2 separate regions of the Homo sapiens genome follow, and region 1 is linked to region 2. Evidence: fine-mapped expression QTL. Tissue or cell type: tibial nerve. Region 2 holds a variant in brackets; the other region holds the start of a gene. All regions are shown on one strand. Distances are from middle to middle.

Region 1 (2,673 bases), 100 kb before region 2:
CTTGTTTCTCCTCGTCTGGCAGAAGCACGTTCTCAGTGGGTGCAGAAACTTGTTTGGCTTCTCTTGGTCTGAGAGAATTTTCAAGCCGACCAACCAGCTCCCTGTGTCTGTACTGGTGAGCTCTTTACTAATAGTCAAACATTTGCATGCTCATTTAGTTTTCTTCACTCTTGTTGCACATCTGAGAAACACTTGAGAGAATGGAAGAGAGAGGCACAATATAGGAGAGCTGTGGAGAGTTTGGCCCCACTTTTTATATTTGTTTCAATGGGATAAAACAGGCAGCCAAGATTATTAGGTTTTGTTCTGAGTTATTGGTTCGGCCTTCACTAAATGGCTTTTCCTCTTTCCAAATTAGACATTTTGAGAAACCAGACAGGTTGTTGAAACTTATTTAGAAGTTTTAAAAAAAGTTGTGAATTTTAAGCAAACGGACCTTGGCAGGTGTATGGACAAAGCCACATTATCCTGAGTAAGGGAACGGAAGGGCAAGGTGTGAGGAAAACGACCAAATCAGAATTGTAATATTTTTCCTCATTTCTTTTCTAGTCATAAAAACAGTAACATTACATATTATTTATTTATTTTGTGGTAGGGTCTCACTCTGTCGCCCAGGCTGGAATGCAGTGGCGCGACATTTTTAGATTTGATCTCTTTTACCCTCCAAAAAATAATTGTCCAGTGTTCCACGTTTAGCTAAAACAGTGAATTGTTAGAATTGCAGCAAAACAATGAACCAAACCGTCAACCGCGAGCAACCTGTACTTGGGAGGTGAAAGTCAGAGGTGAGATTGTAAGGGCTCTGGGTCACTGGGGCATCTGCGCTGGGCAGAAGGGCAGCTCGGTCAAACAGCTGGAGCTGGGAGCCGGTCAGTTGCCAGGCCCTGCCGCTGCTACGTCACGGAGGGCGGGGCGGTGGGCGATTGGCGGTGCACTGCAGCTCGGGCTGCTCTGCAGCCTGGCGGAGACGGGAGGAGGAGCGGAGGGAGAAGTAGGTTGCGAGCTCAGCACAGGCTCCGGCGCTGGCTCCCGCAGCTGAGTTTGGGAGATGTCTAAGTGATTTTTTTTTTTTCCCGGAAGGCAAATGGCTGGCGTGGAAGCACAACCCGCTTTCACTCTTCGAATTTGTGCTTAGCTCTTTTCTTGTACCTTGCGACTCGTGACCAACATGCTGTGATGTGTGCCGAGGGAGGAATTGGTAAGAGTGAGACGGCGAATCCCTCTGACTGTCCCAGCCTTCTGCTTCACCGCCCACCCGCTTTTCCTTTCTGTTTCTCTCTCCTGTTTCTCCCCGCTCCACTTCCCTAGTCGTGTTTAGATTTGATGACATGGCTCAAAACTACAGTTCTGGGCTGTTACTGAACTAAAAAAAAAAAACAACAAAAGATAAAATGATTACACCATTTTCAATCATTTGTTAAAGGGGAATTTAAAAATCTATTTTAAATGCTGGATTTTGTAAAAAGGTAAACTGCACACGCGGGCGCACACGGGCACGTACATACACGCATTCTCACACACCTTTGTACACGCGGGCATACACGGGCACGCACACACACGCATTCACACACACACACACTCCTTTGTCATCCCGTTGTGAAATAAGCAGTTTAAAGAAATTTTGGTTATCTGCCTCAAAGGTGATGAAAAGGGAAGGTGTTGAAGATTTAGCCCAGCAGATTGATTCCTTAAGGTTGATTCCCTAAGGTTGATTCCTTAGGAAGAAAAAGGTGTTTGTATTGGAGCTTTCTCGGAAATAGTTTTCAAAGGAGTGCTACAAAGAAGCCCCCATGCTTCCCCCAAAACACTAACTTTAAAGAACCTAGTTGTTATTCGGGGCACCCTTTATTTTACGTTGTAAAACATGTAGTTTTAATTTACCACGTACAGCAGAGAGACATCAGTTGGTTAGGGAATGGATGGTTATTTTGGTGTCTGGGACCCTGTGCCTTTAGAAAGAATATGTTTTAACTGCTCTTATCATGCTAGCTCAGGTTTTTAAAATGTGATCTGAATAAGACCAAAGTTTCTTCTTGCGTTCTTTTCATGCTGGTTCTAAGCAGGGAGAAAAACAAGTCTGTATGGACAGAGCAAACCTCTAACTCAAAATCAACCTTGAGAGATGCATCAACAAGGACAGGGGCTCCTCATCCACCAATATTTACTTGTATCAGCCTTTAAATCATGTAGGTCACATTTCTGTGAAGAATAGCATCATCGAAAACCCTTGCTGACTTGTGAAGAGCAAAAATCATTGCAACGGAGTAGTTTGTTCAGTGCCCGCAGCAAGAACCTCCCACTCCGATCCACCTCAAAAAGTAATAACTGCTTCTTCTGGACTGTTTTCTATTCTCACTACAAATACGTATCATATACCTACATTGAGATAGTTTATTTTTATTAAAATGAGGTCATTTTATACATTTGGAAAAATAACTTAGCAACATTTTAAAGTTTTAGGGAGTTTAAAAATAACATTTAATTTTCATGCTAATTTAACATTCATTAAATTGCATGAAAAAGAGGGAAAATCTAAGCACTCTAAACTAGGATGTGGGGAGTGTTTGACCCTGGCTTAGCAAAACCTGAATACTTTTCATACTTAGTGACTAAATAGAATTGAATAGGGCCGGGCGCAGTGGCTCATGCCTGTAATCCCAACACTTTGGGAGG
Region 2 (2,855 bases):
TATCATCTGAATAACCTGAACAAATAGAAAAGTTATTAAAAAATATAATGAAGAACCATGATAGAACAAAATAAAGAAAAGCAAAAATATCTGAGAAACCAGAGTGACTCTGGAGATGCACAGAGCAGAAACTAATGGTCAGGCTTGTCAGGATGGTCCTCTGGTCTGAACTGGCTCCATTTATTTTCTTTCTGCTCTTGCCCCATTGTGCTCCAAGTCTACTCTCTTGTGATGGAATCCTATTTCCCTAGCTTAAGTCACAGGCTTTGGCTAGGGGAGGAATATTTTGCCGAGACTGCACACAATGCTGGAGTGCAGCATTGTGAAAGCTAGAGTCAAAGATAAACAGAGACTGCTGTTTAAAGGATGCATCATTAGAGAATTGTTTCTTATGCTGGAGGATGCATGGCTAGAGATCCTGGCCCTGCAGGTCTCTTGTTAATAAAAGCCAGCCATTCTGAAAGTATAAAACTCTTTCCCTTCATGCTCTTATTCACCATCTCATTGCCACCTCCCACTTCCCTGTTGGTTTTTACCCAGTATTCTTTGACTTTCACTTCTTTGTATCAATTAACTTAAATGTATAAACTCTATGAAGTCACTATCTCACTTGCCAAAGGCATGTTTTTTTTGTTGTTGTTTTTTGTTTGTTTTTGTTGTTGTTGTTGTTTTTGAGACAGAGTCTTGCTCTGTCACCCAGGCTGGAGTGCAGTGGCACTATCTCTGCTCACTGCAAGCTCCGCCTCCCAGGTTCATGCCATTCTTCTGCCTCAGCCTCCCGAGTAGCTGGGACTACAGGCGCCCACCACCACGCCCCGCTAATTTTGTTTTTGTATTTTTAGTAGAGACAGGGTTTCACCATCTTAGCCAGGATGGTCTCGATCTCCTGGTCTCGTGATCCACCCACCTCAGCCTCCCAAAGTGCTGGGATTACAGGCGTGAGCCACTGTGCCTGGCCAAAGCATGTTTTAAGAGATAAAAAATTGGAGCAAAATGGCTCAAATAGAAGGAAAGACATTTGAGAAAGAAAAAAAAGGAATTATTGTTTTAGCAGCATGAAGATCTTAATCCAGGAGTTAGCTAACATTTTTCTAGTTGTTTGTACATTTTATTTAAAAATAAGCAGTCTGTGTGACTCTTGTGAAGGTATCTGCCATGGGGAAATACTTTGCAAGATTAGGAGAGAAAAGAAGAAAATCTAATCTTATTTGAAAATTATAGCCCTAGAAAATAAAAGAGATTAATAAAAGCAGTGTTTCCCTAAAAAGCATGATATGTGCCACCAATAGTACACACCATGATTTTAGGTAGTACTGTATACTGCACTAAATAACACTAAATACTACATAATGTGAAGGTAATTCTGTTTTCATACTTCCGATTATATCAAAGAGGTATCTCATTTGATGCTATTATGTTTTATCACAGTAATTCTTGCTAATTTCTCTTTATAACAAAGATTAATCAAACCCTAGACTCAGCTCTTTTATAACAGAGAATATTAATATTATGAAGTTGGTGCCAAAAAAAAAACGCAATTATTTTTGCACCAACCTCATACATTTAAAGTAGGCATATACTTTTCTTCCTTTTTGAATTTAA[A/ATT]TCTTTTTTTATTTCTAAAATTTTTGTGGGTACATAGTAGGTGTATATATTTATTATGTACATGAGATGTTTTGATACAGGGTTGCAATGTGAAATAAGCACATCATGGAGAATGGGGTATCCATCCCTTCAAGCATTTATCCTTTGAGTTACAAACAATCCAAATAGATCCTTTAAGTTATTTTAAAATATATAATTATTATTGACTATAGTCATCCCATTATGCTATCAAATAGTAGGTCTTAGTCATTCTTTCTATTTTTCTTTTGTACCCATTAACCATCCCCACCTCCCCTGATACCTCCACTACCCTTCCCAGGCTCTGATAACCATCCTTCTACTTTCTATGTCCATGAGTTCAATTGATTTGATTTTTAGATCCCACAAATAAGTGAGAACATGCAGTATTTGTCTTTCTGTGCCTGCCTTATTTCATTTAACATAATGACCTCTAGTTCCATCCATGTTGTTGTAAGTGATAGAATCTCATTCTTTTTTTGTGGCCAAATAGTACTCCATCGTGTAGATATACCACAGTTTTTTATCCATTCATCTGTTGATGAACACTTAGGTGGCTTCCAAACCTTGGCTATTGTAAACAGTGCTGCAGCAAGCATAGGAGTGCAGATATCTCTTTGATATACTGATTTCCTTTCTTTTGGGTGTACAACCAGCAGTGGGATTGCTGGATCATACAGTAGCTTAATTTTTAGTTTTTTGAGGAACCTCCAAACTGTTCTCCATAGTGGCTGTACTAACTTACATTCCCACTAACAATGTACAAGGGTTCCCTTTTATCCACATCCTAACCAATGTTTGGCATTGCCTGTCTTTTGGATACAAGCCATTTTAACTGGGGTGAGATTGAGATGATATCTCATTGTACTTTTCTTTCTAGATAAAGTTACTTAATTAGTGAACCGATGTTAAGAAAAATAATATTGCAAGATATACATGAATATGAAAGTAGCTAGGCTGTGGTATGACACGCAAACATTTATTTCTTGCTCATATAAAGTTGGCTGATATTCCAGACAGCTCTAGAAGCAACCATCCTCTCAGAGAACTTCTTGGTCAGTATGGAAGGAAAGGAGACAGCATGGAAAATTGCAGACAAGCTCTTACATACTTCTAACCGGAAAGTTTTACATACCCCTTGTACTCACATTTTATTAGTCAAAGCAAGACATATGGCCATGCTTAATTTCAAGGGAGTGTGGAAATGTGATCCACCTGAATGCTTACTCAGGGAG

What was found. PIP is the estimated chance that this variant, and not a neighbour inherited with it, causes the effect.
Region 1: ATP10D starts here. The variant in region 2 is fine-mapped to the expression of ATP10D in tibial nerve (GTEx, PIP above 0.99).

Annotation. Positions count from the first base shown.
Region 1 is chr4:47,484,322-47,486,994 of GRCh38, forward strand. It overlaps ATP10D (ATPase phospholipid transporting 10D (putative)), which reads left to right and starts at 954. Exons shown (of 23, transcript NM_020453.4): 1 at 954-1,198. RefSeq lists enhancers at 791-1,085, 1,057-1,126.
Region 2 is chr4:47,583,738-47,586,592 of GRCh38, forward strand. The region is part of intron 21 of ATP10D (ATPase phospholipid transporting 10D (putative)); the gene reads left to right. Among named protein-coding and RNA genes, the nearest start is that of MIR8053, 68 kb to the right of the region's middle. The variant A/ATT (reference allele first, on the strand shown) is at 1,603.